Homo sapiens: one gene and its partner. The protein of the gene in region 2 interacts with the protein of the main gene of each other region in a pairwise test. Each region holds a gene or a part of one and is shown on either strand. Other genes may lie near its edges.

Region 1 (3,648 bases), on a different chromosome or scaffold from region 2:
TACTTTGGGAGGTCGAGGTAGGAGGATTGCTTGAGGCCAGGACCTCGAAATCAGCCTGGGCAAACAACTCTTTTAAAATTAGAGACCTCGTCTCTATAAAAAAATTTTAAAATGAAACGCTAACAGTGCGTATCTTCCAAAATCATCCAGTGCTCTAATTCCATGAATATAAGCTTAAATGAGCAGAAACTAAACTAAAACTAAAAATTAAAACCAAATGTCAAAGGACCCAAAAAGCTAATCTGAACAGATTTTACCTCTAATGCCAAGGCAGTCTTGTCATAAGCACAGGGTACTCTTTTCTGGATTGCTTTCGCAAAGACAGGTCCATTCTGTGTGGATGGCAAAGGGGTGATTGCTGCCCCAGGAGAACCGGAAACTGCAGGTAGAGGAGTTGTGGTCTGAGGTTGAGCGTATGCATGAGCAGGTTCTGGGATCCCATAACTGTTGGAATTCCTATTTCCATGCTTTCCGTGTGGTGAGGATCTCACAAGCTTTTCGACATAAGGGACAGGAATCATCCCAACCCGGCCATCCTTGTTCCGGGCACTCCACCACTGTTCTTCAGGCTTCTCTATTATCACTAGGATCTCACCCTTTTTAAAGGGCAGGTCTTCGGCATCATTCCCAGGAAAATCATACAGAGTCCGTACATATTCCAGGTTATCTTCTGCTGTAGGCAGGTTGGGTGCTGAGACAGATCCCATTGGTGGGCTTGGATACCTTAAGAGAGAAAGAAAATTACTCTAAGAGAAAAATCTTACTCTAAGCCAGTGCCTGTCAAACTTCTTAATATACCACTCTCCTCTATAATAAATTATTTTCCTTTTTTATGAGACAAGTTTTGCTCTTGTCGCCCAGGCTGGAGTGCAATAGCGTGATCTTAGCTCACTGCAAACTCTGCCTCCCAGGTTCAAGTGATGCTCCTGCCTCAGCCTCCTGAGTAGCTGGGATTACAGGCGCCCACTACCACGCCCAGGTAACTTTTTTTATTTTTAGTAGAGAAGGGGTTTCACCATGTTGGCCAGGCTGGTCTTGAACTCCTGACCTCGGGCGATCCACGCACCTCGGCCTCCCAACGTGCTGGGATTACAAGCATGAGCCACCATGCCCGGCCTCTACATTTTTTTTGGAGATGGAGTCTTGTTCTGTTGCCCAGGCTGGAGTGCAGTGGCAGGATCTCAGCTCACTGCAACCTCTGCATCCCAAGTTCAAGCAATTCTCCTGCCTCAGCCTCCTGAGTAGCTGGGACTACAGGCACATGCCACCACGCCCCGCTAATTTTTTCTATTTTTAGTAGAGACGGAATTTCACCTTGTTAGCCAGGATGGTCTTGATCTCCTGACCTCGTGATCTGCCTGCCTCGGCCTCCCAAAGTGCTGGGATTACAGGTGTGAGCCACTGAGCCCAGCCTTTTTTTTGGAGACAGAATCTTGCTCTGTCACCCAGGCTGGAGTGCAGTAGCGCAATTTCAGTTCACTGTAACCTCTACCTCCCGTGTTCAAGTGATTTTTCTGCCTCAGCCTCCCGAGTAGCTGAGATTACAGATGTGCAACACCATACCCAGCTAAATTTTGTATTTTTAGTAGAGACAGGATTTTGGCATGTTGGCCAGGCTGGTCTCAAACTCCTGCTGGCCTCATGTGATCCACCCGCCTCAGCCTCCCAAAGTGCTGTCATTACAGGTGTGAGCCACCACGCCTGGCTTTATTTTCCTTTCTATATTCTTAGTAGTTAAGAAGGTTCTATCATGTTGTAATTTTTGTAGTCTGTACTGTCCCAAAAGTTACTATTCTGAATGTCTTTTCAAATTACAAGTATACACACACACATACACTCCATCTCTGTTTTACAGAAACCTTTTGATTACACAGAGATACCTGGTTTAAATTTATTTTTATAATCTCAAGTAAGTTCGGAAGCTGCCTTCCTTTGGACCCTTGTCACAACCACCACACACTCTTCCTCCCAGTCCTAATCTATGGCTTACATCCTGCACACTTCCCTGGACACACAGAAAATGACAAAGGCCTCTGCCTCTGGCCTCTTGAAAAAAAAGGAACAAAAAAGGGCTTACAGACTTGCCAAATTAAAAATAATAAATCCACCAGGCGTGGTGGCTCAGACCTGTAATCCCAGCACCTTGGGAGGCCAAGGCAGGCAGATGACTTGGAGACCTGCCTGTCCAACATATCAAAACCCTGTCTCTACTAAACAGACAAAAAATGAGCCGGGCATAGTGGCACACACCTGCGGTCCCAGATACTCAAGAGGCTGAGGCAGGAGCATTACTTGAGCCCAGGAGTTAGAAGCTGCAGTGAGCTATGACTGCATCATTACACTCCAGCCTGGGCAACAGAACAAGACTGTCTCAAAACATAAATAAATAAGAGGCCGGCGCAGTGGCTCATGCCTGTAATCCCAGCACTTTGGGAGGCTGAGGTGGGCGGATCATGAGGTCAGGAGATCGAGACCATCCTGGCTAACACGGTGAAACCCCGTCTCTACTAAAAATACAAAAAATTAGCCGGGCATGGTGGTGGGTGCCTGTAGTCCCACTTACTCAGGAGGCTGAGGCAGGAGAACGGTGTGAGCCCGGGAGGCGGAGCTTGCAGTGAGCCAAGATTGCACCACTGCACTCCAGCCTGGGTGACAGAGCGAGACTCCGTCTCAAAAAAATAAAATAAAATAAAATAAAAATAAAAATAAATAGCTAGCAAGAGTAGTAGGAGCAAGAGTAATAATAAAGAGCTCATACTTATTATCTATGCTAGGCATGGTTTACGATCTTTGAAGAGATTGGATTATTTAATAGTCTGTGAGGTAGATGCTGTTATTATCCCCATTTTACAAATGAGGAGCCAAAGAAGAGGTTAGACTTGCACTCAGGGAGTCTGGTTCTAAACTCTTCACTCATAATGAGCTAATCAGCCTTAGGGACGAACCCTGCATCTGTCAGGTGTATGAGAATTAATGGCATAATGCATGTGAGGCATTCAAAATTACCGAGCAGCACCAAGCATCCAATGTACCGACATGAACACACACATACCCCTTCAAGTATATCCCTGCTTCTATTTCTTTCTCTTTTTTTTGAGACAGGGTCTTGCTGTCATCCTGGCTGGAGTGCAGAGTGGCACAACCACAGCTCACTGTAGCCTCCACTTCCCAAGCTCAAGTGATCCTCCCACTTCAGCCTCCTGAGTAGCTGGGACTACAGGCAGTTGCCATCACACACAGCCAATTTTTAAATTTTCTGTAGAGATGGGGGTCTCACTATGTTTTCAGGGCTTGTCTTGAACTTCTAGCCTCAAGCAATTCTCTCGCCTTGGCCTCCCAAAGTGTTGGGATTACAGGTGTGAGCCATCACACCCAGCCCCTGCTATTTCAAGAGCCACAGAGAGCCTGTGAACAGTCCAGTAAGTACCATATAAATTTCAGACACTATTAAGAGCACAGTCAGTTCCACCTTAGACTCCATCCAAGAGTATTTTATTATTTGTATAGTTAAAAGCAGTTAGCCAGTGTGTGGTGGCTCACGCCTGTAATCCCAGCACTTTGGGAGGCTGAGGTGGACGGATCACAAGGTCAGGAGATTGAGACCATCCTGGCTAACACGGTGAAACCCTGTCTCTCTACTAAAAATAC
Region 2 (3,648 bases):
CACTGGAAGAGTGAATGTACCTCCTGGAGTCATCAGATTACTATTCAATTTACTATTAAACCTAAAAATTTACTACTAAACGTTTTTGATATTCTGAAGCAAAAAAGATCATTTTTCTACTGCAATGGCATGAAGACATAGCACAAAGTTAAAATTTTCTCTTTAATTCCCTATTAAGTATTTGAGGGAACTGCAAACAAACACTGCCCTCATATGACATTGAAAGCCAAATCAGCTCTGGTTAGGGAGATTCTAAAATGGCGCCACATCCCTATTGTATGGATTGTTTTGCTAATCAGTTTTGTACTATACCCTTTGTTTAAAATGTAATGACTTGAGCCAAAGATATTGGCATTTAACAGTAATTTTGTAAAATGATTGCAGATCATAAACAGATTACATTGTTTTACATCAGGTGTTGTACCAGTGTTTTAAAAAACAACTGCTGAAGGAGGTTTTGAATATGTATCTTTCTAGCCAAAAAAAACTTAATTAGTTCAAATAGGCCCCATCGTCCCCCTCTTCAAATGAGTAAGTCTTGTCTCTATTAATGTTTGTTTAATTTTAAAACAGGACTGGAACTTTCAACCCAGCTGTATATAAAAGAATTATTTTCAGCATTCTCATTACAAGAGCCCACTTCTTCAGGGTTAATAGAGCATGTTACATATTCAAAATGCTTCCTAGTCATTGCTCAACACATCCCATTCAAAGAATGTTGACATCATAGGAAGGTTTAGAGATGCAGAAAGTTAGCCACAGTAAGAGACTAGACTGAAGCGAGCACTCAAACAAACCTCATCTCTCGCTTACCTTGCTACATTATTTCCTTTTCCCCAGCCCTTCTCACCTCCACCACCCAAGAATCTACAGAGTTCTGAGCTCTCTGGGGCTGTCTGAGGAACGTCTCTTGGTATTTTGTCAGGAATTCGAGTCATTAGGCTCTTGCAGCTTCCCACTTACAAAGTATGTCTTAAACTGTTATGGAAATAAGGATGGTCCTACCATACAACTTCCGGCGAGGGAAATGCCTTCACTTTCATAGAGAGCCGGTAAGACCGCTTGCCAGCTACGGTTTCAAGCACCTGCTGTTTTCGATGTTTCACAGTGATGAATGCTTTATCTTTGAAAGGAGAAGTGATACATACATTAGAAAAGAATAATTTCCATAAACAAAACCTTAGGGCCTCATTCAGGGAGGGTGTAATCAATGAGTAAATAAACAGAGCTGAATTATGATAGAGCCTATCAATGAGCCCAAATGTTGATCATGAATAGGATACTTTAAAAGCACTGTAATTGGTGAACGCCTTTCAAATCAAATGGTATCACGTCCTAGCCACATAAAACAGTGGCAGAGCAACAGAAAGTGAAACACCTTAAATATCTCTATCACAATAACAAAGAAGTGGGAAGATATTTCTAAAAATCTACCTGGCCACTATAAGCAAGGTGAGAAAAAGTTGCTCTGTACACCCTAAAACAACCAATTTGATATCAAAAATCAACTGGAGAAAGACAAAAGGAAATAAAGGCTACTGATAGAATTGTTCCATAGTTTCTGCCCTCCACACTGTTTCCTTTTCAGCAATGGAAATAAGGTCTTTAAGCATTTTCTTTATAGAATTTGCATACTGAAATTAAGCAACAGCATTAGGATTCCTTGAGAGTAAAAGCAGGAATAAAATAGCATTAATTCTAAATGATTTAGCATACCATATTTTTATTTCTCTAATTCATGGTAGTACCTGAGAAATTTTTCTTAGATAATAAAGATAAAACTCATCATCTTTTTCTGTTTTGTTTATACAGAACACTAAGAATTTCATAAATATATTAGGTTCTAACCGAATTATTAGCCATAATAAGCATCTAAAGAAAGGACTCTCTGTTCAATTCAAAAGTATTAAATGTAAAGAGTACTTAATGTGGTTTGCTTTTTGACAGGGGGAGGAGGGAACCATGGCCAAGCTGTATTCATTCATGATAATGTAACTCTTGGCCAACAGAAAACTGACTTATTTAGAGAACACAGACATCTACAATGATTAGAAAGCATAGCATGAGTTGGCAACGCTGAACTATGCTTACCATATATATGCACTGAGGTGTTAACAGATTTGAATGATGGTCCACTCCTTACACGACAAGTATAAAGTCCTTTGTCTTTGTTCTGCATTTTGTCAATAGTAAGAACACTGTAGAATATGTTGGCATGGGAATTGCTTTGGTCAATTCGTCGCCTTACGGAAGCTCTCTTATTTTTCTAGAAAGAAAATGTATAACAAATGTAGAAGGAGTGAGTGTTCATGCTTAAAGTTATATAGGATTTTAACATTTCTTAGATCATTAGTTCGACAACAGCTTCTGTTTTATACTAAGAATCATGTCAAATCCACCTAGAGCGTAATGTTTGGAAACTACATCTGTGTCTAGAGGTGCTTCAAATATGTAGCATAGCAGGATTTATTTAGCACTTAATTTTCTTCAAATACACTTTCACATATACTATCTCAATTGTTTGTCCCAACAACCTAATGAGATTGGCAGGCTGACTGCCCTTTTAGTGATGAAAAAACTGAAGGAAGTGATACCCTGGCCCAAGTTGGCTAGGAACTGAAGTTGTTTGAGCATAAATCTAGTGTCCTTCCTCTGGCACACACACCTCTCTACACAGTAACCTGTTCCCTAGGCATAGATATCGCACACAAACGTGGACAATCATAAGCCTTAGTTAGTGTCTGGCTTAATGACAGTGCTTCTCTCACCAAATCACCATGTGAGTTTCCTTTTTTGTCCCTACGAGATATGAAGGAAAATATAATGAGTCTTGGCTGTACTTACTAAGGTGGAATAATGCTATAGTTTCATTATTTCACTATTTGAACAGTGCTTGCCCATGTCAGCTAAATCACAGTAAATGGATCTTTAACCAAGACTTGGAAGGTGCTGTCCCAGGTTTGTCTCAGAGAAGATCAAGAATTAGCCTTAGGCTCTGCAATCTGACCTGGCCACAATGACAGTCCTGCTCACTGTTTTGAGAAGACAAGATCACATTGCCGTCTCCTTTTTTTTTTAAGCACTATATTTTATAACTAATAAGTTATTTCCACCTCTCAATCCTTCCCCATAGTCATAGGGGGCGGAGGGGAGGAGCATGGAAAAATGTCTTTGGGAGCTGTCCAGAACTGATTTTTGGATCTTGAGCTTAGTTCTCCTCTGTGCCACGTTTAATACACTTCTACCCACCTGTCCTTTTACTTCCCCATTGGAACAGACAGACACATGTTGAGGCCATTTTCTTCATTCTCAGCAATAACCAGAGAGAAAAGTCAATTGCCACTATCAAAAGTCAGAGAACTAGTCCCCTAACGTAACAGACTGAGGGAGCTTTCTGCAGCTCTATTTATACAGGTACTACTTCCTTTGCCAAGCTGAGTAACACTGGTATTGCTTCTGACTTGGGAAAGAACTCATCCTGTGTTTTAGAATTGCTTCGCCCAGTACTGCAGCCACCAGCCACGTGTGGCTATTAAAATTAAATGAAATCAAAAATTCATTTCCTCAGTCACACTAGTCACATTTCAAGTGCTCATCTGCCATATGTGGCTAGTGGCACAGTACTGGAGCACAAATACGGGATATTTC

The links. The genes of interacting proteins can lie anywhere in the genome.
Region 1: the proteins of FLT1 (region 2) and CRKL interact in binary tests that used the Homo sapiens proteins (3 or more experiments, as listed by UniProt).

The regions. Positions count from the first base shown.
Region 1 is NC_000022.11:20,930,854-20,934,501, reverse strand, and holds part of CRKL (crk-like protein), read right to left. Parts: intron 724-3,648; coding exon 258-723; intron 1-257. UniProt on the Homo sapiens protein: May mediate the transduction of intracellular signals.
Region 2 is NC_000013.11:28,429,045-28,432,692, forward strand, and holds part of FLT1 (vascular endothelial growth factor receptor 1 isoform 1 precursor), read right to left. Parts: intron 2,267-3,648; coding exon 2,092-2,266; intron 1,124-2,091; coding exon 1,006-1,123; intron 1-1,005. UniProt on the Homo sapiens protein: Tyrosine-protein kinase that acts as a cell-surface receptor for VEGFA, VEGFB and PGF, and plays an essential role in the development of embryonic vasculature, the regulation of angiogenesis, cell survival, cell migration, macrophage function, chemotaxis, and cancer cell invasion.